Regions from separate parts of the Homo sapiens genome. Here region 2 is linked to region 1. The links come from fine-mapping of genetic effects on gene expression. A gene starts in region 1. The other region holds a variant in brackets. All regions are shown on one strand. Distances are between the middles of the regions.

The links.
Region 2: its variant is fine-mapped to the expression of PLEKHA3 in whole blood (INTERVAL, PIP 0.98).

What each region holds. Positions count from the first base shown.
Region 1 is chr2:178,476,584-178,491,493 of GRCh38, forward strand. PLEKHA3 (pleckstrin homology domain containing A3) reads left to right here and starts at 3,874. Exons shown (of 8, transcript NM_019091.4): 1 at 3,874-4,326; 2 at 9,058-9,174; 3 at 14,076-14,231. The coding sequence starts at 4,287. It overlaps FKBP7 (FKBP prolyl isomerase 7), which reads right to left and starts at 2,017. Exons shown (of 4, transcript NM_181342.3): 1 at 1,696-2,017; 2 at 479-630. The coding sequence starts at 1,916. LOC124907911 (a long non-coding RNA gene) reads right to left here and starts at 5,115. Exons shown (of 2, transcript XR_007087320.1): 1 at 5,025-5,115; 2 at 4,762-4,899. RefSeq lists a silencer at 3,628-4,267 and an enhancer at 5,852-5,901.
Region 2 is chr2:178,495,037-178,511,264 of GRCh38, forward strand. PLEKHA3 (pleckstrin homology domain containing A3) reads left to right here. Exons shown (of 8, transcript NM_019091.4): 5 at 460-624; 6 at 4,175-4,218; 7 at 6,025-6,140; 8 at 8,724-16,228. The coding sequence ends at 8,851. Among named protein-coding and RNA genes, the nearest start is that of TTN-AS1, 20 kb to the right of the region's middle. The variant C/T (reference allele first, on the strand shown) is at 7,797.

The sequences.
Region 1 (14,910 bases):
ATGGAATTATACAGTATTTGTCTTTTTGTGACTGGTTTATTTCATTTAGCATAATGTCCTCAAGGCTGATACATGTTGGTGCATGTCTCAGAATTTTCTTCCTTTTTAAGGCTGAATAATATTCCATTTCATTTTTTTTTTTTTTTTTTTTGTAGAGCAGGGTCTTGCTGTTGCTCAGGCTGGTCCTGGCCTCAAGTGATTCTACCACCTTGGCCTCCCAAAGTGTTGGGATTACAGGCATGAGCCACTGTGCCTGGCTTCCATATATGCATGTATTCATTTTGTTTATCCATTTCTCTATGTATGGACATGTGGCTTGCTTCCATCTCTTGTCTATTGTACATGGCTGCTATGAGCATGGCTGTACAAATATTTCTTTGAGACTGTGCTTTCAATTCTTTCAGACCTATATACCCAGAAATCTATTAATCATTTTTTAAATATAACTAAAACAAGAAATTAAAATTAAACATCTTACCATAGCCTTCCTTTCCGTATGCAAATGAAGGGGGTATAACTACTTTTCGCTTTTCTCCAGGGCACATATCTGTCATAGCAATGTCTAGGCCTTTTATGACTTGCCCAACACCAAGAACAAACCATTTGGGGTGGCCTTCATTTTGTGTCCGGCTATAACAAAAAGCAATACTTAAGTAAACTGATTTCAAGAAATCAAACTTGAAAATACAGCTGGGCATTTAAAATTGGAGTCCTCTCTAACCATCATTCCCATATAATCACTCTTTCTAAAACCCTTAATGGGGTGTTTGACTCAAACTTCCCTATAATCACCAGAAAGAAGTATGATTTGCCCAAAGTTAATCATTAACAGCCATCTCATTTTTTAAAATTGTTATCTTTACAAAAACTATTCAACAGTTAACTTTTTAATGGGTCTCCAGCCCCTAACTAGGTGCATGGCTTGTACAAAGAACTCATTTAACTCCCTGGGTTTGTTGTAAAAAAATGATAGGGCAGTTTTAGCCTCAAAAAGTCATTTTAATAGTAATTTAAAATGGTATATTTTCTTATTAAATTCTAATGATATAATTTATTAAATTCTTATTAAATTATAAAATTGTATAAATTCTTATTAAATTTCTCTATTTTATTCTAAATGGATGGAACTGTTTTTCCCAGTCCTATCTTTACAGGGTAAAGAAAAGATTCTCCCTCTGAGTAATAAGCCATCAATTAAATCAGAGTAGGCACCAGGTGGAATGAGGGAGCAGGGCCCACCAGAAGTCACCAGGGAAGTAACTGTTTTTCTTGATAGAAAGTGGCCACAACCTATAAAAATCGTGCTTCTGAAGGCCAGAATTAAATCTCTTTATTCCATGTATTCCTCCGTAAAGACTCAATACTTCTGGCAAGGGAAAAATGTGAACATCCTTATAGGCAGAACCTTGATTTAATTCTGGAGGTCCCAAGGGTAATGGTGGTGGTTGATGTGTGTGTGGATGTATCGTATTTTTGATAATTTATTGCCACAACATTTTCAATACTTTAAATAAAAATATTCAGTTTATTAGAGAAACACTGCCATATAATGTGATTTTTTTTAATGAATAAAGGGCTCAACTTTTACCGTTAAAAAATAAAACCCCAACCAACCAACCAATGAGGCTTCCGCTTGGTGGAGGCAGGCAAGATTTTGTGCAACTGGACGCACGGGCAGCTCGCAGCATTTCCTACCTGCAGTAGAATTTCGAGCCGTCTTTAGCCAGGTAGCCGTCATAATGGGCATTTAGTAGGTCTCCCTTCTTGCTTGTCTTAGAGCAGTTTTCTGGACGATGCAAAACTTCTATTTTCACTTCTTCGGTGCTCTCCTCTTTCTTTTGTCTCTGAGCAGTAAAAAGGCCCCACAGATAAAAGAAAACAATGAATCTGAATAAGAAATGCATGGTTTTTGGCATCGGCTCCAGCAGAACACTGCTCTCCCTCCCGCGTGTCACTCGCGCCCCGTGGATGTCCCGCGGCCGAGTTCCGACGCGTGGCAGGCGTTGTCCTGCGTCACAAAGGGCCGGGGCGGGGCCATAGATGCGGCCCCGCCCTCTCATGGCCCCAACCCCTCCGCCTCCCGCAGCGGGCTCAGCGCGGTTAACGCTGTTTCTAGGCCCTCGGGCTGGCTGTCCTCAGTCTTTAAGATCGCAACGCACACTCGCTCCGCTTCTTCTCGCTAAACCCGCGTATTTTACAGCAGGTTTCCTCAGGGTTCGGTGACAACATTCGCATTTTCTAAAATGAAACTGGCATAAGACGAAATAAACAGCCTGGGATGTCGTAGAGTCAGGGAATATGGTTGTCATTTCTGGAAGCAAAAGGCTTCTAAGACCCCTAGGGAACGAGCAGATAGATACTGGGGGGAGGGAGAGGCATGCTGGAAAAGGAGCGTAAAAAATAGGCTGGCGGTGGCTTTCTGGGTGCTTCGGAGGTGTCCTTGAAGCGCATTCTCAGGTCGGAATCTTGCATTCAGAGGTTCCAGGCTGAGTCGCACAACCTGAAGGCCAGCCCGATGCAACGAAACTGCGGTACCGCAACTCCTCTGCCTGGCTGCAGGCGTTTCCGAGAGCCGACCTCCACAATTCAGCATCCTCCGCTGGCTTGCATTTCTTTTCCCCGCCACTCGGGGCCGCCCTTGATTCGAGGGCCTCTGGTAGTGCGGGGAATGTTCTTTTGACTTTTTTGTACCATCCCATGGGATACGTAATTGTCCACATCAGTCAAGAAAACTTGAGTATTGGGCATGTTGTCCCAATCTCACAGCTAATACGCAGCAGGGATTTGGTCAAATCTGTGTGACAACACCACTTCACCACCAATTTTAGTATGAAAACCTTTAAAATACACAGAAAGTTGAATTCTACAGTAAACTCTCCTACACCCACCATCTGGATCCTGTCATTGAACTATATTATATTTATTACATATCCATCCATCACTCTATCCATCCATCAATTCGCCTTGTTTCCAAGTGAATACCCAAAGACTACCCAAACCAGAAAACCAGCAAAGGCCTTCTGCATTCGCCTGGATTAAGTTCTGGGAGTAGAGGTGCTATTCTACCTCGGTGATGCGAAGAAAAGCCGCAGCACTGAGCCTGATTGATGTGCTTTGCTTAAAGTTTGCAAAATTCCATAAACCTGAAAATTACTGTCGATTATGCAAGATGACAATTGCGTCCAAGCAGGAGTTTCAAAAATCATAAAAGCTAGGGGGAAGTCCCCATTTCTAGACTAAAATTCCGAAGTCGAGTTCCATGTTTTATATTCTAAATAAAATTGTGGCTATCCAAGGTTATCGGCGTGATGACAGTTCCTTGGGGGCCCTCGCCATTCCTTGTCAGAGGACCCCGTCTGCTGCACATTGCCTTCCTAGGAGATAATTTCAGACCCCTTGAATATGAGGAAAATACGAAGCAAACAGAAATAGGAAGGCTTTTATGTATTTTTGAAGAAAAAACAGGATTTTATGTAAAATAAAAACAGGATTTCATGAAGAAACAGGATATTATGTATTTCTGAAGAAAACCCAGGAAAACCCGAGAGAACTAAGTGCCCGCGGGATGAGTGTGCGGGCAGCTCCTCCTTAGGTAGGCACCGGGGCTGCGCGCGCAGCGGAGCTCGAAGGTCTTGTCCCCCGGGGGCGGTCAGCCTGGGCCTTGGCGGCCAAGGGGAAACTTGGGAGCCTCGGGACTGTTGGCCACCGGCCCGTGGGAGGAGTAAAGGCGGCCCTGGCTGGCAGGCCGAGGGTGTGACGCGCCGGCCCGCCCTCCTCGCGCAGCCTCCGGCTAGGCGGCGAGGCCGCAGGCCGCGCCCGCTCCTTCAGCCCCGCCGCCGGGGAGGGGTTTCCCGGGACGATCCGGCCCCTTTCATCCAGGAAGTGAAATCGACGTCGGGGTCAATGAAAACAAACGGGGAGCCCAGGGGGAAGGAAGGCAGGCGAGGAAGAGGCAGCGCCGGGGCGCCGGAGGGAGCAGCCGGGCTGCGGAAGCGCGAGCAGGAGGCCGGTCGCGGGCGCATTTTTGCCGTTGTCGCGGCCGCCGCCGCCGAGGCTTACCCGGGAATGTCTGGGCCCGCGCCTCGCGGCCCCCAAGCTCCACGCTGCGCCCGCTGTCCCGGCCTCTAAAGGCCGCCACGTCCCTGCGGCGCGCGCAGGCAGAAAGCGGCTTCGTGCCGGCGGAGGGGGCCCGGGCGGGCCGGGAGGGGCTGCCCCAGGCCCTGCGCCTACCCCATCACCGCGGCCGGCGCCGGGCCGGGAGGATGCGCGGTGTGGGGCTCTGAAGCATGGAGGGGGTGTTGTACAAGTGGACCAACTATCTCACAGGTATGGGGGCTCGTGTGATGAGGGAAGAGGGGAGAGGCGGGGGGCTGCTGAGAAGGCGGGTCGGGGCTCCTCTTCCTCCGTCTGGCCTCCGCGGACCCTCAGAGCGAATTCGCTCTACTCGATTCCAGGGCTTGTTGAGTCCTTCTGGCCTCTTCAGGGGAGGGTTTGAGGCTGCGCACCTTCTAGAGGGTGGGAAGTGCACCTGCCACTTCTTTGCTAGTGTAATAATACTAATCCTTGCCTCCTGTAGCCTCAGGAACAATTCTCAGTCACCCTACATGTGTTGTTGCGATCTCCGTCCTTATTCACACTTAGTATTCATACTTTAAGAGCATTTTGTTAATAACTGAGTTGTCGGAGTATTGGACTGGAATGGACCCTTTAATTGTTTCAACTACAAGATTTAATTTTAATTCTTTTTTGTATTTCTTTTAATTTCCTTAACATTTTATTTAAAACGTTGTCTTGTTGAGGTTGTTCAAGCTTAGCGAGCATGATTTTGGAAGCTGTCCCCAGATAATATTCTCTTAGGGATTGTCATTGAAGTATCCTTACGTTGGGGAATTCTGTTAACTGAGAAATAGTGGAAGAAAGTGTCAATACACAGAAGGGGAACAGGCAAGTCACTTTCACCTGTGAAGTGGGTTGGAAGGAAAAACTTTGAAGAAATGAGAGACCAGCAGGAAAGGGCCCCTTACCATGACATTGGCAGCCTGTAGGCTTATTTAAAAGCTCCTTAAATTTGAGTTGTAGTCCAATCTCTGCCATCAACCAACAATGAAGGCAAGTCAGTTATTCTTTCAGGACCTCAGTCTGATAAGGCCAGGGTGATTAGTTATTTTGCCCCGGGATGCCTTCCAACTCCAGAATTCCATGACCTCACTAAGTGAGAAGATGGTTTTAACATAAATTTGAACAGTAAACAGATTTTTTGGGGGGGGGGGGTCTAGCATAATAGGCAAATCATGACTTGCTGCCCACTTCTTCGCTCTGCCAAAAGTATCACATCCCTCAGTAATTGTGTGGTACTCTCGACTTGTGTCCACCTGATCTTGTGCAAAATGTGCAGGTAAACTTTTTAAGGCATAAGCACTGAGCTACAGTTATACCTGCTTTTTGATTTATTAGAATGCTAAAGCCAGATTTGTAGCAGCAAATGCTTTTAACATTTATGATACACAGATGTTTTATTTTGTTCAAACTAAAAACTCAATTTATTTCTATAAGTGACATGTTTTAACGGGAAACATTTAAAAGTTAGATAAATATTTTTTATTGGGCATTTTCATTTTGGCCATTGTGAGAGCAGTTATACTGTTTGGTTGAGGTATAGTGTTAACTGTTAAAGACAGTAGAGTGCTTCATGCTTGTAATCCCAGCACTTTGGGAGGCGGAGGTGGGAGGATTGCTTGCTCAAGACCAACCTGGGCCACATAGGGAGACGTGGTCTCTACTAAAAAAACAAAAACAAAAACAAAAAACAGCTAGGTGTGGTAGTGCACACCTGTAGTCCCAGTTACTGAGGAGGCGGAGGCGAAAGGATTGCTTTAGCTAGAGAAATGGAGGCTGCAGTGAGCTAGGATCAGTGAGCTATGATTGTACCCACACACTTCAGCCTGGCTAACAGAGCGAGATCCTGTCTCAAAAAAAAAAAAAAAAAAAGACATTAGCTTGTATGCTTTGAGATGCAAATGCTCATCTCATTGCAAGTGTTCCTAAGCATGGTGTTGTGGAACCATTGGGCCATTACTGAGATGAGTCATAATTTAAGAGTTGAGATGAAACCTGGGCTTGGTGGCGATTTCCTTATCTCCTATGGTACTAAATAACCAGGGGTTGAGCTTTTAATCACATGTGATTTAGATTTTAGTCTTTGCAGGGCATTTAGTCAACTTCTAGTATGCATTGTAGAAGCTGGTTGAAAAGAAATCTTTTGTTTGGAAGAATTTATTTTTAAAAGTTAAATTTGGGTAGATGGTGTGCTGATTATTAATTTTAGTTCATCTTAGGTCATAAGAATGAGCAGCTGTTCATACTAAGTGATCTTTAAGTGTAATGATAGTGTTGTTCAGGCACGGTGGCTCATGCCTGTAATCTCAGCACATTGGGAGGCTGAGATAGGCAGATAGCTTGAGGTCAGGAGTTTGAGACCAACCTGGCCAACATGGTGAAACCCTGTCCCTACAAAAATTACAAAAAATTAGCCAGGCATGATGGCATGCACCTGTAGTCCTAGCTACTTGGGAGGTTGAGGCATGAGAATTATTTGAGCCTGGGAGGCAGAGGTTACAGTGAGCCCACATTGTACCACTGCACTCAAACCTTGGCGACAGAGCGAGACTCTATCTCAAAAAAAAAAAGTGTTATTTGAGAATCCTTTGTAGAGAGTAAGAATTTCAGTAACATTTTGTAGTTTGAGATAAAAAGAATTAAAAAAAAAAAAGAATTTTAAAAAGGGAATACCTGTGAATCTTTTTCACAGATATTACCCTCTGTTATATAAGTGTGTGAACCAATTAGAAATTGTTTTATTAAATATTTCTTCAAAAAGTGTGTAGAGATAATTAACAGGCTTGATTATATTAATGTGTTCAACCACTCACCTTTCACGTTGCTGCAAATTCTAAATGAATCATTTTGCCCAATATTTGTTTTAAAGAGATATTGAATTGCAGTACTGCAGGCTTGCAAAATCATAATTTGTCCTATAGGCACACTAGACCTGGGTGGAGGAATGTATTTTCACCACCCCCTGCTTATAATTTGTTTGGCAAGGTAAATTAGTGTTTGGAAAGATAATGTTTTTATCATTTCCATGCATGATCAATACAATATACTCTCAAAGATATATTGTATGTCTATACTCTCATGGTTAATAGGAAATATCTGCAGGGTGTGATGGCCCACATCTGTAATCCTAGCACTTTGGGAGGCCAAGATGGCAGGATTACTTGAGTCCAGGAATTTGAGACCAGCCTGGGCAACATGATGAGACTTCGTCTCTATAAAAAATTAAAAAATTAGCCAGGCATGGTGGCACTTCTGTAGTCCTAACTACTTGGGAGGCTGAGGTGGGAGCACCTTTTGAGCCTAGGAGGTTGAGGCTGTGGTGAGCCATGTTCATGCCACTGCACTTCAGCCTGGGCAGCAGAGTGAGATCCTGTCTCAAAAAACCAAACAAAACAACAGCAACAATCCCTGAAATATCTCACTTTTGGGGTATTCATTCATTCATTTATTTATTCAGTCACTTGAGAAATAGATTTTTTTGGTACCTCTTATGTGCCAGGCACCATTCTAGTTGCTGGGAATGCAGTGATGAACAAGATAAAGTCCATGTACCAAAATAACTTACCTTCTAATTTGTTTAGGTCTCACTAGGGAATACTCTGTTGTTTCATAAAAAGGAATCTTCCAGGAACCTGAAAGTTGCTGGTTTTTAGTTGCTTTAGATATCTCTCTTTCTGAACTGTATTACTGCATTCCCTGCCTTCCTAAACAGGGTTACAAAGTAAAATTTAATCTTTTTGATGACTCAGTGTTGTCATTTCAAAAGTGTTACAGATAAATCCTTTTGGGGAATTAAGTCCTGGATCTGTATTAAAGTGTAAGGATGACTGACCCATCTCCCCTCTCGGCACTATCTGACCCTGGAAAGATCAAATTGATCATGTGGCAGGCTATGGCAAAAGTGACCGGGATACGAACATCCATGGTTTAAAATGTACATTTTAGCCATGAATATTTGTGCTGAATTGTTATTTAATAGTCATGGAAAGAACAAGGACAGTCACACTGCTCCCAGCATGGTCACCATGTTAATAGTCAGTGAACTGTTGTAAATTAGTAGCATGCTTGATAAGACTCCGGGGAACACCAAGTTTGGCTTCAAAGAGGAGTGGGAATTGGGTGCCAAGGAAAGTCATCATCCTTGTCGTCAGCTTTGGCATGGAGCCAAGTCTGTGATAGATGTGAGCTCTAGTCACTGAATAAATATCAATCGAACAATTGCAGTTTCTAGGATTTCAACCCTAGCTGTGCAACTGCAGACAAGGGAAGAGGGGGTCATATGGGGAATCTGTGTTCTCACCATAGGGTATGTAGCTTCTATTTAAGAGACTGGAATTCATTTAGCACTCATTGTGTTTAAGGGAGTTTGCTTAGAAATATGTATTTTATAAGAGGCACATTGCAGAATTAGAGGGCTAGGTGGCACCTGAGAGGTCATCTTGTTCAACCTACACATTTTAGGGACTGGGAATTTTAGAGATTTATTGAAATGAAAAGATTTGTCCCCAGGGTATGATTATCCATTAAAGAATGATACTATAGGTAAGGCTAGAACCCTTGTCTTCTGTGGCTTTTCCCATAATATCGTAACCCCAACTCTGTTCCTTTTTAGGAAAAGAGGGCAGTTATGCTATACCCGGTTTAGGGCTATTACTGAGGATGGGCCTTATGGGTTGTTAATGAGAACACTGTGAGCTAGAATTAGAAGTATTACTCCCCGTGTTTTTGCTGCTCTGGAGCTTGCTCCAGAAACCTCTCCCAATAAAGTGGAGACTGATGCAAAAACATTTTTGGTAAGGCTTGGTGATTGAAAATTTCATTATCGGAATGTTATTTGAGAGCCAAGAAATAATGTGGATGGCAGGTTTTGAAATCACAGTTTTCTATGTGGTGAAAGTAATGTGTTTCCAATTGACCTTTTGTTATTTATGGTCTTTTTAGGCTGGCAGCCTCGTTGGTTTGTTTTAGATAATGGAATCTTATCCTACTATGATTCACAAGATGATGTTTGCAAAGGGAGCAAAGGAAGCATAAAGATGGCAGTTTGTGAAATTAAAGGTAAGTGAATATACAGAATTAGAGGAATTGGAGGTTAGATAGTCAAGGGTTCTTCAGCATACTCCAGACGAGGAAAAAAAGCATTTCTAACCACGTAGGGATCATCTAATACCATTTATATCCTTAGCAGTCAGGAGTGGCATTTCATCACAGTTAACACAATTAAACACAGTTTTTGATAATTCTCCCTCTACAAATGTATTTTTGAATGGAAATAACTTTTGCTAGTCTTCCAATTTGGATTTGACAAACAATTTCTTGTGGATACTACTTTAGTGTCCACCTTCAGTCTATAAGCATTCTATTTCATTATTGTTGTAATTAATAGAAAGATATTGTAAAAGTTGGAGGCTGAACTCTAAAGATGATGGGGCCAGCTCTGTAGGGTTTTGATAAGGTATGAAGTTGGAGTCATAAACTCTGGTTCTTTGCTGAATTTGGAGGTAAGTTCCTCTGGGTGATAGAGATGGTTTCCTTTTCTTCCAAAAGGGGAGAAATAAAGCAATAGGTCCTGCTGTAATTTTCGTGAAGGAAGATTTTATGGACCATTGATTCATTTGTGTGTGTGGTTGGAGTGTGTGGGGTGGAGGCGAAATCAGATAAAATGGCAGTGAAAAGGACTGAATTCTTCAAAGAGAGTGAAGGAAAAACTAGAGCACCAGGGGAGTGACTGTTAAACTCCTTCCTGGTCGTTTTCATTTCTCCACTCTAGCTTGAATACTTGTCCTTCATGAAGTGTGTTTCCTTTGACGTGGTGAGCTCTGGGTCATAGCTATCAAACAGTCTTCCTGAAAGGTAGCGATTAATCTGACTTTAATTGCCATACATAAGTGTTGTCTTTTAATGTTTTATAAATGGAATAATTCAGTATTTTCTTTTGTGTCTGGCTTCTTTTACTCAACATCATGTTTGTAAAATTTATCTATATTGTTCTGTGTAACAGTAGTTCAGTCATTCTCATTGTACAGTATTCCATTGTGTGAATATCTCACAATTTTGGTATCCATTCTAGTACTGAAGGATTTTTGGGTTATTTCCGTTTTGGGACTACAGTGACTAAAGCTGCCATAAACATTCTTACACATTTATTGAACATATGTGTGCATTTCTGTTTAGTGTATCTCTAGAAGTGGAGTGGAATGCTAAGGCACTGAATATTCATACTTTCAGCTTTAATAGATGTTAAAGAAAAAAGTATTCTTGACACGTTGAAATGGTATGGCAAACTTTATTTAGGACTATTGTGATAGATTTAGGGACTATTGCATTGGAGGAGAGAAATTGGGCTCAACTCCAAGTACAAGGAAAAGTGGGAATTTATAGCCAAGGAGCAGGGTTAGGGGGAGACAGTGTCAGTGGAGGGAAAGTTACTAAAAGGTAAGTGGGGGGATTCTGGCTAAACTGACCTAACAGGATTCTTGCTGAAGGCAGGCTGAGGCCAGGGTGATCAGACATTGCTGGGAAATGGTAGGGAATGAAGAATGTGGTCAGATATCAAGGGCGGGTGATGAAATATGGTGTTAGGGGATTCTGGCTAAACTGACTTAGTAGGATTCTTGCTAAAACTGGATTCTACAAGGATGGAGAAGGAAGCCTAGGTGAGTACAGGATTCAAATGAGCCTGACTAAAATTTGGTCAAGAAGAGAATCTTTTTCTTTTTTTCTTTTTTTTCTTTTCTTTTCTTTTTTTGTTTTTTTTGAGACAGGTTCTCACTCTGTTGCTCAGGCTGGAATGCAGTGGTGTGATCATGGCTCACTGCAGCCTCCACCTCCTGGGTTCAGGTGATCCTCCTACCTCAGCCTCCTGAGTAGCTGGGACCAGAGGCACATGTCACTATGCCCAGCTAATTTTTATGTTTTTTGTAGAGATGGGATTTCACCGTGTTGCAAAAACCAGGCTGGTCTTGAACTCCTGAGCTTAAGCAATCTGCCCGCTTTGGCCTCCCAAAGTGTTGGAATTACTGGTGTTAGCCACTGTGCCTGGCCAATAATCTTTTTCACAGATAATGCCAGATGTTTTCCAAAGTGATTATATAAATTTTTTCTGCAATCGATCAGAGTATTAGGGTTCCAGTTGTTCTGCATCTTTGCCAAAACTTGGTATTATCCATTTAAAAAATTCGGAATATTTCTGGTGTTTGTAGTGGTATCTCATGGTGGTTTTTTACTTGCATTTCTTCAATAACTAATGATGTTGAATACTTTTTTAGATGTTAGCCATTTGAATGTCCTCTTGTCGGGAGTGTTAGCTCATGTCTGTAATCCCAGCAGTTTGGGAGGCCAAGGCAGGCAGATCGCTTGTGCTCAGGAGTTCGAGACCAGCCTGGGCAACAAAATGAGACTCCTGTCTCCACAAAAAGGAAAAAAAAAAAGGGTTGAATGTTGTCTTCTTTTGAAGTCCTCTTTCAAGTCTTTGGCCCATTTTCTAACTTTGGCTATCTTTCATGTTGATATGTAGGAGTTCTTTGTATAGTCTGGTTGAGTCTTTGTGTTGCAGATGTTTTCTTCCACTGTGTAGTTTATGTTTTCATTTTGTTCATGATACCTTTTGAGGAACAGAAGTTCTTCATTTCAGTGAAATCCAATTTGTTAATTTCTTTTATTGGATCCTTTTATGACCCACTGAAGACATCTTCTGTGTTACTTTCTTGAATGTTTATTGTTTTACCTTTTATATTTAGGTCTATAGTAGGTCTGTACTTGACTTAATAGCAACCTTTCCCCCATGGGGATACCTTTGTCACAAAGCAAGTGACCATGTATATGTGAGTCTTTTTCTAGACTGTCTATTCTGTTCTGTGGCCCTGTTTTTGTTGTTGTTGTTGTTGTTGTTAATCCTTGTGCAGATATTACATTGTGTTAATTTCTTTAGCTTTATTCTCTTTGTATCTGATAGCCAAAGTCTCCTAACTTTAGTTCTTTTTCAGTACTGTCTTGGCTATTGTAAGCCCTTTGCATTTCCTTACAGATTTTAGAACTTGCTTATAAATTTCCACAGCTATCTGCTGGAATGTTTGGAATTGTGTTGAATCTACAGATCAATTTGAGGAGAATTATATTCTTGATGATATTGAGTCTTCTGTTCCATTAACTCTGTTTAATTAGATATTTAATTTCTCTCAGTAATGTTTTGTAGTTTTGTGTTTAGAGGTCTTGTCCATCTTTTCTGATGTTTTGGAAGCATCATTTTTAAGTTTGTTGCCTTTTCAGGTGACAACTTTGGAGGGGACCACCCTTGATTGGATGCATAAATTCTGGTATGTTTAAAAATGAGTCATCTTATTTTAGTTTCATCTTGTAGCAACATCATTAGAAATTAGAGCATTGCTTTCTTTTAAAGTAGGTATTGGTGCTTTCACTAGTATTGGCAAGTAGCAAGGAAGAGTTACTCTTATAGCTTTAGGAGTTCAGTAGTTTTACCCTAGCCTAGAAATCTTTTGCATTCATAATTGATTGTTGCATGGTTGTATGTTTCAGTGTCTGCAACTAAGAATGACCCATATAAGTAGAATAATAAGATAGCAACATTTCTGTGGCACTTACTTGCCATAATACACTAAACATCTGGTCAATATTTATAGCAATTAATTATTTAAGTTGGGGCTTCTGCCAGATTTTGCTGGGACCCTCATAATTTGGCTCCTCCCAGCTTGTCCATTCATGAATATGAATTTGTTTTCTTTTCTTTTCCTTCTTTTTTTTTTTTTTTTTTTTTTTTGAGACAGGGTCTTGCTCTGTTGCCCAGTCTGGAGTGCAGTGGTATGATTGTAGCTCACTGCAGCCTGTACTGGGCTCCAGCGATCCTCTTGCCTCAGCCTTCCGCCTCCCAAGTTGCTGGGTCTACAGGTGCTGGGAGTACATGCTTGCACCACTATACTGGCTAAACGAGTATGAATATTACTTTGCATTACAATGGAAGCCTCTATTTATGCTTGTTTCCTAATATTCTCAGTACATTCTGTGTTTATTTTCTCATTTAAGCTTCTTCTCATTCATTTTCTTAACCAAATCCCGCTTTCATCAAACCCTTCTTCTTGAAGCCTTTTTAAATTACTTTCTCTCATAATTACACAAGAAATCTCTGCACCAAAGAGTTAAACATATGTGTATTCTGATTGTTTTTGGTGTGTCAGTTTGTTTCTTGGTTAAATTGTCAACTGTATAGAAGCAAAGACACCTTTTTTCTTCCCCTCTATCTTCTCTTCTACTAGCACTGCTCTGAGCTGAGTAAATATTTGTTGATGAATGACAGCTTAACACAAATTTTGTTTTACAACAAAGACTTGGGATTGGCTCATCATAATTCCTGATTAGCTCTCTTTTCTCAGAGCATCAAAGGAGGTGTGTGTGTGCAGGAGAAGAGGTAGAAAGAGGGGAAGAGATGAATGTCTTCAAAATATACATGCCTTCCATGTGTTATGCTATGATCCATAATTAAGGGCATATCATAGAGTTACTTTTCTGACAGAAGGTGGCTGTAGTTGTCATTTATTACATTCCTTCTATGTGTCAGGCACTATATATGAAAACAAAGACTTTGTTTTCAAGGAAATCAGTAAAAAATATGTGATAGTGTAACATTCATTGCAGTTGTATTTAATAGGATAAGTGGCCCCAAGGTGGGGGAGGGCTGTCACTTCTCAGTAGTTAGTATGTCCCTGTTTTCTTTTTCATACTCTGTCATCGCTTTGGCACCATTGTTACCCCGGGTCTATATGAGAATGTTGATTTGGGGAGTGCCACTGGGTGGCCCCTCAGGGAGCAGCACTGCCTGCATCATGAATGATAGTTCAATGTTTTTGGTATATGAAGCATCTGATACTGTGTGATTAGATGATTATTTGATTACCCTTAAATTACTTAAGTCTATAACTGTATTTCCCCTTTGTTTATCATCATAGTTCATTCAGCAGACAACACAAGAATGGAATTAATCATTCCTGGAGAGCAGCATTTCTACATGAAGGCAGTGAATGCAGCTGAAAGACAGAGGTGGCTGGTCGCTCTGGGGAGCTCCAAAGCATGTTTGACTGATACAAGGACTAAAAAAGAAAAAGGTAACTATAAACTTTTCCCTTGTGGTGAGAGTACTTTCTTAAATATAAATATAAATGTAACTAAATTAGCCTGTCCACTTTTAGTATCTATCCCAAGGAAATAATTAGAAATGTAGATTTACGTATATCTTTATCATAGTAAACATTTTGTAAAAGCTATAAATTTAGGGGAATGGCTCAATAAACTCTTTCTTTCTTTTTTTTTTTTTTTTTTGAGATGGAGTCTCACTCTGTTGCCCAGGCTGGAGTGCAATGGCGCGATCTCGGCTTACTGCAACCTCTGCCTCCTGGGTTCAAGCGATTCTCCAGCCTCAGCTTCCCGAGTAGCTGGGATTACAGGTGCCTGCTACCATGCCTGGCTAATTTTTGTATTTTTAGTAGAGACGGGGTTTCACCATGCTGGCCAAGCTGGTCTCGAATTCCCGACCTCAGGTAATCCGCTCGCCTCGGCCTCCCAAAGTGCTGGGATTACAGGCATGAGCCACTGCGCCCAGCCTAAACTCGTGCTTTCACTGGCTGATATATAGACAGTAAGATGTTGAAAAGGAATTTCAATGTGAGAAAATGCCCAGGGTTAAATGATCATTGAAAAAAGCAGGATTCAGAATTATGTGTATTGTTAGTATTCATTGGCTGGCTTAGGAAAGGTATGTAAGAATTGGTCAGATTGTTACCTTTG
Region 2 (16,228 bases), 19 kb after region 1:
ATCCTGAACAAAATTGGGCTTTTTACTCTATCAAGGAAGAAGTGGGAGAATGGATAGAGGGTAGGCATGAATTGTACTGCCACTAATTAACTCTAAGGGTATTCCATGTCTGTGTCCACTTTTGGGAAAGTGAAAATTACTGTTTAGGTTAGATTTCTCTAAGATAAACTTTTGTACACAGTTTTTCAATATGATAATTAAATGCAAAGCTTATTTTTTCTTAGAATCTAGTTTCATACATTGTTTAGGAGACAGGCATTTCTTATACATAGATGTTTTAATGTTTTCTTTTTTCTTTTTTTGCCCCAGCTTAATTTTCTAAGGTACTGTATTTTAAATAAATTTGAACATAACATAGTAATGTGTCTGTTGGAGATGTCTTATTATTTAATGATAAGGTTGTATATGATTCCATGTAGTTGTATGCAAATCTGTTCAAGTCTTTGTGTAATTTTTCAGAACATGAATGAAGCCTCTTCTCTGCTTAGTGCCACGTGTAACACATTCATCACAACGCTTGAGGAATGTGTGAAGATAGCCAATGCCAAGTTTAAACCTGAGATGTTTCAACTGCACCATCCGGATCCCTTAGTTTCTCCTGTGTCACCTTCTCCTGTTCAAATGGTTTGAACTTCTTGTTTTGGTTTTTTCCCTCAGTAGTAATGTTGCATGTGGTTTTCGTTTCATTTTGGTATTTATTTTTAAGGGTGGAAGCAGGCAGTTGGGGGGCGGGGAACAGCTAACAAGTTGAATTTTTTTGTTTGTACTGTTTCATATTCGAGCTTCTTAGCTGATGAGCTGAGCACTTGTGCTAGTGTCCTCATTCCCTTCTCCTTGGAGGGGCTGTGCATGGCCTGCCCACAGGCTGCTTCATCCATTTTCCCCAGTGTCTAGGAAAATATTACAAAGTGCTGTGACAAAGAAAAAGTTGGGGAGCTCTATTCTGCTTGGTAAGAATTACACAATGGAATGAGATTTTAGTCACAATGGGGTACAATTACGTATATCTTTAAAGGAGTTAGAAGGAATTTGAAACATATTCCGGTGGGAACGGTATTCTCTACTAAGCATTTGGATCTGAACCCTCAGAGTAGCTGATCTTCAGTTTCTTCATGTGTAAAAATACAGTGTATATCAGAGAGTCACTGCAAACGATCTGACCTGCTTACTGTTAGGTGCTCAGTGTTAGTTTCTTACTTCCTTATTGCTCAGAACAAGTCCTCTTTTTGCCAGGGGTGGCAGATTCGTTGTCCTTTCTGAGCTAATAAATTTGCTCTAGCATGCTGTTAGAAATTTGTAGGTGAGATAAGCTTTAATGAGACTTCAAGTTTATTGCATCAAAGTGTTTTTAGGAGTCCATTTATAGGAGTAAGAATGCCACCTTGTTGCTGTTTCAGCAATTACCTGAAGATCTATTTGTTAGGAGAATAGGGTCTAACTTCTTCCTAGGTTCTCTTACCTATCCCAGCAAATTTAGTTATGAGATTTAGTAAAGATTATTGCCTAGATTTATTTAGAGAATTGTTTTCTAATCAGTATTTGATGGGCTAATAGTTTCCTCTGAGGCAAGCGTACCATGAAAATGAGTTTTATGGCCAGATTAATTTGGGAATTGCTAGGTTAACTTAAATGATATGAATTGGGTTTGATGGGACTTGTCACAGCCTTTTTACTTATTTATTTATTTATTTTTTTAGAGACAGGGTCTCACTCTGTTACCCAGGCTGGAGTGCAGTGACACCATCATAACTCACTGCAGCCTCAAACTCCCAAGTTCCAGCCTCCTGAGTAGCTGGGACTACAGGTGCACACCACGGTGCCTGGCTATGTTTTTTAATTTATTATTTGTAGAGATGGGGGGGGTCTCATTTTGTTGCCCAAGCTGGTCTCAAACTCCTGGCTTCAAGCTAAGTTTTTAAATTTATTTTTTGTAGAGATGGAGTCTCATTTTGTTGCCCAGGCTGGTCTCAAACTCCTAGCTTCAAGCAGTCCTCCTGCTTCAGCCTCCCAAAGTGTTGGGATTACAGGCATAAGCCACCATGCCCAGCCGTCACACCCTCTTTTATGCTGAAGTGTATTATGAATCTCTGAGAGGTGGAAGTGTAGTGTACAGTGTTGCTGAAATTTATTTGACAATTGAGCCCGTTATATATATACACAAATAAAATAAATATATATATAAATACTATATATGTATATATTTTCTTTTTTTGAAATGGAGTCTTGCTCTGTCGCCCAGGCTGGAGTGCAGTGGCGCAATCTCAGCTCACTGCAAGCTCCGCCTCCTGGGTTCATGCCATTCTCCTGCCTCAGCCTCCTGAGCAGATGGGACCACAGGCGCCTGCCACCATGCCCAGCTAATTTTTTGTATTTTTAGTAGAGACGGGGTTTCACCATGTTAGCCAGGATGGTCTCGATCTCCTGACCTCGTGATCTGCCCGCCTTAGTCTTCCAAAGTGTTGGGATTACAGGCGTGAGACACTGCGCCTGGCCCATTTTATGTATTTTTTAATACCATCTTACAGGACTGTGGTGTGGTGTTGAGTAAAACATAGTTTGACAATGTTGCTTTTTAGGACAATTGTAGATATGCTATAAACTGTTAATTAACAAGTATGTGTGAACAAAGAAACCAGTGTTTTGAGATGGATGTGTAGTGCTGTGTTCCTGAGGTTGATAGACAAAGGGTACACTTTTTTTTTTTAAGCTGTACTTTTTAGAGTCAAATGCAGTAAAACACCTCAGAGTTGCCTTGCTTCTGCATTGAACTTCTCAGGAAATCCCTTATGTTACAAATGCTCTGTAGTCCAGAGAAGTCAATGCGTATTTTACATATAAGAAACTAAAATAATTATTAGTTCTAGAGACAAATAGCATGGAAAGTAAGGTCAGACAATCTTCATGTTTTTTTTTTAAATAACATTGTTTATTTATTTATATGAAAAACTTACATTTATTTATATGAAAAATAAAGCTGAAAATTTGAGTATTCCAAAACAATTTAATCTGATCTTTGTAAGTGCTTTAATCTGATCTTTATAAGCACTTTATATAGTTAATCTCAATGAATTCATCTTAGAGTAAACTTGCATTTAACTTTATTTCAAGTTGTCATAAAAGTTCAGACAACCATCACTGGACCTACAGATTGAGTGATTATTATAGTGGGGATGTCCTTGGGTTAGTAAGCCTAAAGGAAGTAATTTCTGTTAAAGGAGATGTTAGTGGCCATTTGCATCTTAATGTCAATCTTATCAGATGTTCCCAGACTACAAACTGGGTGGGTCATATCTCTTAGCATTTCAACTGGTATTTCTCAGAGCAACTAGTGGCTCATGTTCCAAATATAGAAGGCATTTGCATAACATCAATGTTAGACCTGGGCTTGTTAGACTCTTGGGCTCATGTATACAAAAGCAACCACCCTAAACCTTTAGTATAATCTTTGTTTTTCTGCTACCATGTTAAACTTTGAAATAATCAGTTTTACTTGGCTGCCTCCCTTTATATTTTGATGGAGTAGTTGGATCTTCCAAATTATGTTTAGTATTTATCATATTTTTTAAATGTTCTGCTTAATTAGGTATTCTTTATTTTTTTAAATATATGTTTTGGAAATCCACTGAGACTTAGGGTTCTTCTTCTGAGTTCTTTAAAGTCTTGAATTATTAATGCTGTTTTCCATGAAAACCACACTTTAGAACATTTGTATATCAGCTACCTAAATAATTAATGATAAAGAGAAGCTTTGCTGCCAGACTCTACTACTGTCCTTTAAAAAAGAGATATTTATTAGAATATTTTGTGGCTTGCTAGATACTCCTTTTTTATCACATTTATATCTTATTTATAGTTATATACCCTGTTTTTTATATTTGTATACACACACATATATATGTATTATGTATAAAATTTGGTTTTCACTTTTGAAAAAAGAATCCAGCATGTTTTTGGTGTGTGTTGAAAAAGATTCCAATTAATGGTTATTAGGGAGAAAGCTTGATGTTGTACTAATTATGTTGCTTGAGTCTGTGAAAGATTAAATTTTTTTTTGCCAGTTATCTTTTTCTCTGAGTAAATTTATGTTTATTATGATAATAGTAAATTAGAGCTGCATGATTCTACTTGACATATGGATTATGCTAATTTTTTTTTTTTTTTCCAAAATTTCTAGATGAAGCGTTCTGTCAGCCACCCTGGTTCTTGCAGTTCAGAGAGGTAAAAGAACCTTTTCTTCTGACTAAGTTCTCTCAAATTATATCCATCTAGGGAAGTTCTTTGGGCCTTTAACAAGTGGTGTGGAATGTAAACTCTGTATGGGTTAGGTCTGGTTCAAAACCAGCATTTTATCTCTCAGTATTTATCTCCTAGTATTTAGTATAAGGGCCTGGCCTCAGTAGGTAGTCAGTAAAGAAAAAAATGAATGAATTAACCAGCAAGGTAAGCACGTTGCCAGCCATTTTACCTTTTTTAGATGTTTGAAATGCAGTCATATATTGAAGAATGACTTTTCCATCAATGATAGACTGCATATGTGACAGTGGCCTCATAAGATTATAATACCATATTTTTACTGTACTTTTTCCATGTTTAGGTATGTTTAGATACACAAATACCATTGTTACAGTCACCCACAACATTCAGTACAGTAACATGCAGTAGAAGTTTGTAGCCTAAGAACAATAGGCTATACCACATAGCCTACATGTGTAGTAGGCTATACTAGCTAGTTTTGTGTAAGCACGCTCTGTGATGTTTGCACAGTGACAGAATCACCTAGCGATGGATTTCTCAGAATGCATCCTTGTCATTAAGAGACGCATGACTGTATATCAAGTGATGGTTAGACAGAAGTACATTTTTGATGTGTTGAGACTCCACAGCTAGGGCTCATTTTACCTCAGCTGTTTATAGCATCATCTATTCATGCTGAGCTGTTGTTTCATTAAGAGAGAAAGATCTTGCTGAAGAGAGAAAACCACTTGATATTTTAAAGTACATATTCATATCAATACGTTTAAAAATTTTACCTTCTGGATAGATCTTACCAAAATGCTAAGTTGTTAAACTATTATTTTGTTAGGTAATAGTCCTTTAAGTTGCTATGGTTGTCTTATTTAGTTCTTTGGAAAGTGATTTAATTATAGTGACATTGGCATTTATTTCTCTATATTTGGACTGTTAAATGCTGTTTTGTCATGTTTTAATTTTTTCCCCTGATGATTGTATAATCTTTGATTAAACTGTCAAATACTCAGAGGAATCCAATGATGTATATATCCAACCTTGTCAGGGAATCAAGAGTCCCACCAACTGAATTTTCCAGAAAAATGGAAGCTTAATCAATTTTTGACCAACTTTTATTTTTATGAAAGAAATTTTTCTATCCTTTCTACCTCATAAAATAATAATTTTAAAATCTTATTTGTTTCCTGATGAATCAAGGTTGTCATTAAGTACAGTAAAGTTGGGCTGTTACAAAAATAGTAGCTGAGATGCTGTTAGGTGGTGGTGATTTGCTTCTCTGTTTAAATTTTTCAGACAGATTTTTAAAAGAGTTTTTCTAGGCCCCTTTTTGCCATCTTTATCTTCTCTTGCTGTTGTCAGTGAGTCTACCTCTAGCTCTATGAACTCCTTGCCCATCTCTTTCAGTCTGCTGGTTTTGATCAGATATGGATTGACTTAAAATACATGCATTCATGAAACCTATGACTTCTAGTTTTCAAACATTTGTAAACCGACTGATATGTCTGCTCTCTGGAGTCTCCCCTACAGAAGTCACTACTTCTTCATTGTACCCCTCTTCCTTTTAGTTCAGCTCAGAAGCCATATTCTCCAGGTTACCAGCTGTCTTCTAAATGGGTTCACTTGTTTTTGACTTCTGAGTAGAATGTTGCTAACACGGGACGTTGAGCATAAAAATAATTCTTTTTTCACTTAAAGAGAAGTCATTTAAAATTCCAGTTGAGTGTGTTTTTGTTTATGTAAGGCCTTACAATTTAATGCTTTTTACTTAATTTGCAGGAGTAGCCACTCTATAAAAGAACCAGTATCTACACTTCACCGACTCTCCCAGCGACGCCGAAGAACCTACTCAGATACAGATTCTTGTAGTGATATTCCTCTTGAAGACCCAGATAGTAAGTGACATAGATTCTGTCTCTTTCTTTGGCATATTCAGCAAAATTACTGTGGGGCTCTGTAATTTCTGGAAATGAAGTATACTGACTGAACATTGTACTTTGTTTCTTTGATTCCTTAATTCAGAGGTAAGCAAACAGCGCTCAATCAATGAAAGCTCATATATCCCCTTACAAACAGGTTTGTTACTAACTAAGGAGTGCTGAGGATTGCTTTGTAAATATCGTATCTCAGATATATATTTATAGAATATCATGATCTTTTACCACCACTAGGACTTAAAAAACATTTTAGAAGAAGGCATGAATTGTTAGCAGGATTCTAGGGGAAAATAAAGGCAAGTTCCAAGTTCATATAAAAGTCAGCATTGTTACTTTACTAAAATACCTAGAAATGGCTAAGGAAAAGAATTTTGTCTGGTAGTCACAGTGAATTATAGTAGCATTCATTCCTCTACCTTTTTCTTCCTTATTAAAGAGGCAGCATACTGTGATTGAATGTTTTTAGGAAAGGTTTTGTGATTTATGTTAAAATTTTTAAATTTTTCTCTTCAGAGAAGAAGCTTTGAAAGTGTGTCAGAATATCTAGTAAGATAGTAGTGACCATGATTTGCAGTGAACACAAATATAGTCTTATTATTACATCTCCATTAATAGACTTATACTCTCCAAGTCTCTACTATTTCTCAGGAAGCATGTGGGATAGAAACTATGTACAATTTCCAATTAAGGAACAGGTCGTGTTCCAATAGTTAGTTCATTTGTAAGTCAGTTGTTTGGAAAACAGATTTTATTTTTCTTGTGGAAATGACATGATAAGTGGTGGTTAGCTCTTTGGATAGCTAACCATTCTTTGGAAGAGCCCAGTGAATTCATAGTATGGCTGAAATGGGACAAAACAATGGTGTATTTCTAGCATTTGAGTGTATTGAAAACACTGATTAAGCTGGAGTTGTTTTATGTAACCAGAAAGTTAAACAGGTTTAGTTCATACATATGGCAATTTTAAAAAGGATTGCTGGTCATTTTTGGATTTTTAGGAGTTGATAGAATCTTTTTTTTTTTTTAATGCCCACTTTTTTTTTAAACTGAATTAATCATCTATTTATTAATATATGGCACTATTCTATGCTCATTAACATTTTGAATTTAAATTGAGATGTGGGTGGAGAAATGAAGGAAAGAAACCGGGAAGGGGAAGGGAGAAAGAAACTTTCTTGGGCCAATCAAGCAAGACCTGGAAGAGAAGAGGAGGAGAGGAGGAGGGTTAAAGAGGTTGAGTATGTGAAAAAAGTTATCTGAGGCAGGTAAGATAGACTCTGATTCTCTTTATTCTTTATGCCTTTTACACATGACTCTTAATCCAGAGTTCATGAAGGAGTTCTGTATGCTACCTTGTAGTTTTAAGTGCGACATCTTTTTTTTTTTTTAAGGGGATCATTTGTGATTACTAAAATAATTTTTTTAAAGCCATCCATTTTTCTTTAGAATTCTTTTCTTCTAGTTACTCTAGTCCTGAATATTTGAAAACAATTTTCAAAAGATCTAGGTGTACATGCTCTATTATATTTAGCATCCCCCAGTTTAACTGTTATGGACTGTAACAAAACTAGTCTCACACACACACACACGCACGCACACACACACACGCGCATA[C/T]ATATAGTTCACTTCTCTAGAACATCTTTAAATTAGCAAGTATAGACTAGGTCAGAAATTTTATCCTTAGATTTTTTCCTGTTTATACTAGTTTAGTGTTTCAATTAGCTGACAAAGCAAAGATTGAATTAGTGCTCTTTCCAGAAAGTATATATTTTGCAATTGGCAGTCTTAGTTGAAAGTTGTTACTCAAAAATATTCTTCTTGTGAGATGCAACTGCTTCTATTTTCTTTAACAAGCTTTTTCAAAAAGTATGAAAGTAATAAATGATGATGGTAAACTCAAACTATATATATAAAGGTACAACTGCCTTAGAACAGGACTATGCCAGTGTAGTCAGCTGTGTTAACATGGAGTTGCAGTGATAGTTCTGTGAGCTGCATTACAAATGGAGAAATGGGATCTTTCAGTATGAGGTACCTTGTCAGCTTTGCTCAGAAAGTCTTAGAATGAAAAGAGGAATACCTGAATTTAGTCCTCGTTCTGTTACCAATTGTGTGATCTTGGGTAAGGCATGTATCCTTTTATGGGTCTTGGTTTCTTTGCCTAGGAACAAGGAGGATATTAACAGCATTAAAATAGGCTGAAAAAGCAATAGTTAATTAATAAAGATTAAATTCAATTCAGCAAATATTTATTGACTACCTATTATGTGCCAACCATGATTCTAGCAGTGAACAAAACAAAAATCTCTACTTCAGGCAATTTCATCATTTATCTTATGAATTCTGATGTTTCTCCTTGTGGCTGTTGATACTCTAGTCTAAAAGTTAAGTTTTCCTGCATGAAACAAACAAGGAAATACAAAATTAGCCAGAAGCTAAAGGAATTTCATGTCCCTGAACAGGAAATTTAAAATGTTCTTTCACAGAGGACTGGAGTTAATATTGACAGGATGTTTAACGTTTTTATCAATGTCTTCATAGGACCTGTTCACTGTTCAAAAAATACACTTAATGGAGATTTGGCATCAGCAACCATTCCTGAAGAAAGCAGACTTATGGCCAAAAAACAATCTGAATCAGAAGATACTCTTCCATCCTTCTCTTCCTGAAGAAACTGAAGTGTCCAACTTCCTCTAAGTATTGCTATGCAAAAGCTGCTGTAATTAAACTATTGTTATAGGGAGTAGTTTTTTCCCTTAGGACTCTGCACTTTATAGAATGTTGTAAAACAGACAAACAAGAAAACAAACCACATACTTTTGAAGTGTATTTTATCTTTATATAGTTTGTTTGCAAGAGTATTTTCCTAATAACTTCACAGTATGAATGTGCATCTTTTTTTTTTGAACAAATGATGGTGTAACATTTTGACATCCATAAGGACAAATGTAGATATTTTTCTTAAAAACTCTGAGGGGACTGACAGCATGGTCAGGGTGTATTGTAGCTTATAAACATGAAATCTTATAAGGTTTCAGTTTGACAGAAGTGTGATATATGTAACTTGTGCCATGGACCAAATGGTCACTTTACCACAGCTAAAAATGAGTTACGATAGCAGCTTGATGGTGATTGTATTGTATTCCTTTAATCAAAAAGGAAACACAATATTCTAAGTATCTTTAGCCCAAATACCATGACATATTGAGCATCTTTAAATAACCAGACTGTATTGTCCTTCATATGTGAAGTTGACACTACTGATTTGTCAATACCAAATTTTGGGTTAAAGTGTTTAATTTTTATGTATTTATTTTCTTGTTGCCTCAAAAGATGATTGCATTCTAACTTTTGTGACCTACCAAATTTAAGATGTGTATACGTTGTTCTTTACGTTGTTCTAGAAAAGAGATTTTAATGCTGTAGTGACTTTGCTCACTTACACTAGAGAAATAAACAACTTTCAATGGAAGAGAATTTTAGTGCTTTTTTTTTCCTAAAATAGATATTAAGCTGCTGTTGTAAAGTATTGTTTGCAGCTCTTTCCAATATCTAGAGACATTTTTATTTATGAATATTTATACAAAAAGGAATTCTGTCAAGATGACTGCTCTATATCACTTGAGAATGGCATTATTTAATTAAAGAACAAATAGCATTTTTTGGTAGTGCCTGTCCATACCTATTGTCATTGTTTGCCTTGTAATCTGTTTTTTTGAATTCATTTTGGGCTGATAGTTTTGTTTAAGGTTTTGGATAAGGAGCACTTTAAAACAAACTGGTGTGTTGTTTTTAAGTTAATCATATGTTTAATAAATGCGTGGTTTTTGCATTCAAACACATCATATAATACATTGTATTTTTTACATTCATTGATATTCTGTCTAATCTTTATTAGGCACTAATATAATTCTAATGGATTTGAGTTTGTTTGTATATTTAGGCCTGCTGGTGAAGACACAAATGAAGCATAATTTTTGTTGCCTGTGAGCTTAGAATGGTGTGACCTATTTCATTTTATTTCAATTTATCTTGTAAGTTTATGTGGGATATTTTAAAATAATTAATATTTGGTATTTGTTTAAAAAACTGTAATTATAGGCCTTCCATCTTAAGTTTAAGATGGACATAAACAGTCTATACATTAATATGTGTTTGGGTAAACTGTATGCTACTTGAAGTGTTTGTAATTTTAAATAACACACAGGTCATCAGACTACTCTATATTCAGTGGAGTCTTTGCCTGCTCATAAGTTGTACTTCATATGTCTAATTTGAAAAAAAAAGTTTGATAATGTAGTAAGTTATGACGTTGAGCAGGTAATCAGGTTTTTCTTGTTTTTTTTTTTTTTTTAAATTTTGTAGTAAGAACTTGCACAGTATTAAGACCATGAAGGTCAGGGTGCTATTGATTGGGAGTTTTTTCTGGTAGTGAGTTTTTTTGCAGTAATAGGTTTATAAGGAAAACACCGTAACAAGCTTTTGAACTTATAGAAAATAATCACATCCATTTTCTATTGCTTTACCCAAATAGATGGGTTCGTGAAGAGTTTTCTGTGAATATTTTAAAAATACAATGCAATTATTTCTGGTTTGTATCATTTTTTCCCCCTTAAAACAGGTCCTTGAACAGGTTTGCGGTATCCCTAAGTATGTCTTTTGTTATGACTTGGAGCCACTTTTTGTTGTTATTGTTAGGAACCAAACACATCTGTGAAATCATTTTTTTTGTGGGAGTATAAATATATCTTGAATTATATCCAGGTTTTGATCAGTGAATTAGTAGCATGAAGAAACCTATAAAGCTTAAGGGAACCTTGCATTTTGAGGAGTCCTTTATTTTCAAGTGTGCCTGACTTTTTTGAATTTTAAGAAAAAGATGAACCATATAACAATTCTGTAAGAATTTTAGCTTGTCAAGTTGTTCTATACTTTATAGAAAAATTATTGGTTATTATTAGTTATTAGTAGTCCCTTTTTTTTGCTTTGTCTAGGTCATGGGGTTATTGAGAAACATGAAAAGTTATTGAGAAATTTGGAGGTTCTCTTGGCAGCCTATCAGTGATCTTCTAAGCAAAAGCAGTGCTTGTTTTTCATTTCAAGTGCTTGCTCACTATTCTTTGGGAATCGCAGGCCTCCATGACTAAAGGGATTTTGATACAATTCTTTTATAAATGAGCTGAATTTGAATTTTCTTACATCATATGGGATTATTGCATGATCTTCAGTCAGGAAAAATCCAGAAATGGATGCTATTGCTTAAACTTAAATTCCAAGGCAGAAGATAGAGTATCTTCATTTCCACAGATGCCCTAGAACCTTTGACCTTGAATTGTAGTTTTTCAGTATGTATTATCACATTTAGAAATGTAAAAATCACAAGATCTCAGGAAATGCGCCCTTGTGATATGTTAATACCAGATTGCTGTTTACACTAATTCCATATACATGATAATACCACTAATTTGGACTCTGCTAGTTCTTTTATTTAATAAGGCACCTCTAGGTCTGTACTTTGAGCCTTGATCTGGGTACTTGGTACAGAGGGAGTGTCCTGGCCTGAAAGAAAGCCAGATTAGGCTGCAGGAGTTCCTTTGAGGAGGTCTGTCTTTTAATAACCCTGGCGGGTAAATGAATGGTAGGTAGCTGGTAGGTAGGCCTTCTTGTTCATGTCTTTCTGTCTCCCCAATCCACTCTTTGAATTCATGTTGAATTCTTAACTTGAAATTCTGTTGTTTTTTTTTTAATTTTAGCTTTCTTTTTATTAAACTAGTTAATGTACATAGTTTGAAAAAATCAAATAGAACTAAAAGGTTTATAGTGAAAAAGTGTAGTTCCCTCTTCCCCAGTTTAGCATTCCAAAGACAAACACTTGGAACTCTTAGTGGTTTGTGTTAGTATTTACCTTCCTGTTTGAAAATGTTATACTACTTTTTGTTGACTTATCAATTTCAGAAACAGTTTCTCGAATACCTTTTATGGTAGACAGGATTTACTTTACTTAAACTCTCCACCTCCCACATTTTTCTTCCCCCACCCCTCCCAAAATAGATTTATATTCACACAACTTTTAGTTAGAACAAACTTTTTGTGAAATAGATAGACATAAATGTAGTTCACTGATGTACCACATGGTTAACTATCATTATTTCCTTTTTACTAGAATGTTATTTTTTCTGGGGTTGGTATTGCCTGATTTTCAAATTTGCTTAGTTTTTAATGTACCTGTCACAATGACTATCCAAAGGCTTAAATGCTGAAAAACATCAGATAATCGTATCAATTCTCTTAAAAAAGTTTTTAAAAATATTTTGTCATCCTTTAGGGACATTTCTTCCACAGTCCTTCATCTTCTGCCATTTGTACTGTTGCCCTCCAGGCCTGTTCTATGGTTCAGCAGTCATTCTGAAACTCCCTTTAGTTTTTAGTCTCACATTAGGTTTTTTTTTTTTTTTTTTTTTTTTTTTTTTTTTTTTGGCAAAGCTCCTCCACCAGTAACTTCCTAAGAAAAGGTGCATAGAAAGTAAAGATTTTAAGGCTTTACAGGTCTGAAAATGTCTCTACTCTTGATTGGTAGTTTGGAGTCTGGAAAATAACATGCCTTCAGAATTTTAAGGGCAACATTTCATTGTCTTAAGGCATTTAGTTTTTCTGTGAGAATTCTGATACCGTTCCTTTACCTGGGATCTGTTTTTACACTCTGTAAGCTTTTAGGAACTTCTCATTACTTCTGATGTTTCATAATAATATGTGGGTCTTTATTCATTCATCTTGATGGCTACTTGACTTGGTGGAATCTTTCAATTTAGAGATTTGTCTGCTTCAGTTCTGGGTGTGTGTGTGTGTGTGTGTGTGTGTGTGTGTGTGTGTGATCTTTTTGACAGTTTTCTCTCTTCCATTTTCTTTGTTCTATCTTTCTAGAATTTCTGTTATTTGAATGTTGGACCTCCCAGAGTTGGACCGCCTCTAAATTTAAAAAGCTTTTTCTCTCTAGTTGTTCCTTAAGTTATATTATCTTTGTTCTTTTTGTTATCCTCCAGCTCTTCTGTTGAATTTTCTTTATATATATATTTTAATTTCTAAGAGGTCTTTTTTTTCTGTTTCATTTCATAAAAACCTATTTTTATTTTATAGATTAACTGTTTCCCCATATCTCCCTGAGGATAAAATTAAGATTTTTTTCTTACATCTTTCCTGTTTCTTGAATGGTTCTCCCCCTCCCCCACCATGTTTCTGCTTTCTATTTATTTGTTTTGGGCTCTTTCATTCTGAAGCCTTTCTTAGAAATCATCTATTCATATTAGTCATGTATTAAAAAGCTAATGTCATAGGTCTTTATATGTGGGCAGGGTTTATAAGTTGTCTAAAGGGCCATCAGGTAGAGTTGGCCTTTTCTGTTGAGGTCCCCTAAATTTCAGTGGAGGTCTTCTCTTTGGGGCCAGTTTCTCTAGAAAACTGGGTCCTGATAGTAGGGTAAGAAAAGACAGCTGAGGACCCCAAGATTTGTATGATGACTTTTACTTAATCCCTCTATCTTCATCCTCTCTCATGCCCATCCGGCCCCACCCCCCAAATCCTCCTCTGGCTGCTGACCCTCAGGTTCAGTTTTTCCTGTCAGTGGAGGTTGAGGGTGGGGCGTAGGCTGGCTGTGGAGAGTAGGGGAGAGGACCTGGGTTCCAGTTGCTCTTTATACAGACTTCTAGTCCTGATTTCAGCCCTATACCTCACTCTCATCTTCTACAATACCTAGTGCTTCCAAGTCCTGAACTTAGTAGAGGTTTGGTGGGGTGTGTTTTTGGGCTTCTCCCTTTTGGGTACTTAGGCTTTAACTTCCTCCACTCTGCTAGGTTAGGTATTGCACTTCCTCCTGGTTTTTATCTGTATAAACTTTGTTAAAATCTCATGGCTTTGTCGTCTGTGCTTTTTTGTGGATTAATACTATTTATATTCCTTTAATATCTTTTGGTGGTTTGGAGGTAGAGGAAATAAATTCATGTGGTTGGTTTGTATGTTTCACTGAAAGTCTAGATTTAAATTCTAATAGTGTATAAAAAATAAAAATTCTTTAGTATTAATTTGTAATTCATTCTAGTGATTTTTAATTCATATGGTTTTACTGTACTACCTACCTCATAGGGTTGTGAGGATTAGAAGAATCAATTCATAAAAAGCAGTTAGAAAAGTGCTGGGCACGTAGTGTGTTGAATAAGTGTTAGTTATTAATATTGTTTACTATCATTATTATTATTACTACTATCAGTTTTTTTTTTTTTTTCTGAGACAGGGTCTCACTCTTTCACCCAGTCTTGAGTATAGTGGAGTGATCTCAGCTCACTGCAGTCTCGACCTCCCAGGCTCAAATGATCCTTTTACCTCAGCCTCCCGAATAACTAGGACTACAGGCATGCACCACTACTCCTGGCTAATTTTTGTATTTTTTTGTAGCAGCAGGGTTTTGCCATGCTGTTCAGACTGATCTCAAACTCCTGGGCTCAAGGGATCTGCCTGCCTTGACTTTCCAAAATTCTCGGATTACAGGCATGAGCCACACTGCACTCTCCTATCTCTCTCAATTCAGTAACCTGTTTATTCTTGAGTGAAAATGTTTCACCATAGGAAGAATTACTAATATATGGGAAAATCTAGTGTTTGATAATGTTGACCCTACATTTTTTTTGGACAGTCTCTGTCGCCCAGGCCGGAGTGCAGTGGCGCGATCTTGGCTCACTGCAACTTCCACTTCCTGGGTTCAAGCAATTCTCTTGTCTCAGCCTCCTAGGCTACAGGCTAGGACTACAGGTGCTCGCCACCATGCCCAGCTAATTTTTGTATTTTTAATAGAGATGGGGTTTCATCATATTAGTCAGGCTGGTCTTGAACTCCTGACCTCAGGTCATCTACCTGCCTTGGCCTCCCAAAGTGTCGGGATTACAGATGTGAGCCACCGTGCCCAGCCGACCCTGCATTTAACTAGACTTCATATGAAATGTTCAGGTGTTAGGTGTTATCTTTCTAAGAAACATTCAAGCCTTAAGAAATCCAATCAGTTATAGTTACTTTAAAAGTTTTAAAAAGAGTATAACAATTTTGATGTGCTTTTAAGCTTTATTGGTATTATATTTTGTTTTTATCATATAAATATGAAGTATAGGAGATAAGATAATGCAGATGATGTTTGTTATGCCTTACCTACCGCCAGTAGATGTAATACTCTTAATACATGGAGTACAGAAATAGTAGATTCCCTTCATTCCCAGTGCAACAGTGTTGGGAGGTGGGGCCTACCAGGAGGTGTTTAGGTCATGTGGGTACCACCCTCATGAATAGATTAATGCCGCCGTGTAAAGGGCTTGTGGGCGTGGGTGAACACTCTCCTGCTCTTCTGCCAAATGTCTCTCCCTTCCAAAGGACGTAGTGCTCTACATAGTGTTGGAAGCGAGAGACTGAGCCCTAACATGCCAGTGCCTTATCTTGGATTTCTCAGCCTCCAAAACTGTGAAAAAATAAATTTTCATTCTTTATGGTAAATTCCCATCACTGTATCCATAACCTCTTGTAAATAGTTGTACACCTTTCAGAAAATGTTGTGGACTTACATAAGCAAAATGCCTGCATTTATTTCATAGGTAAAATTTTAATCTATTTTCTAATCAAAGTGTTTTGGGGAACATTTAATTTAAATACTATGTTCAATTTTTTTAATGGTCTGCTTCAGATTTTTTTTATAAGTTAATGTTTTAAAACAAAATAATTGTGTTCTAGGTAGAAGCTACTCTGAGTTTAGGTTTTTAAATCTCTTTCAGATATTTTAAGTATCTTTTTTGTGTCTGGATTCAGAGAGGTATGATAATGAGATTCTCTTCTAGAGGGGAAGTGGGAGTAGGTAACCATACTACTCTTTCTACGGCTACAGAGCCGCATACTCGAAGGAGGGAGATTTTTATTTGTAAGGACATTTGTATTATCTTTCATTAAAGTAGAGTCCCATGGGCGTGGCAAATGGCTGTAAATAAAGTAAAAGTGGCTAAAGAAAACAGTGCCTGCTA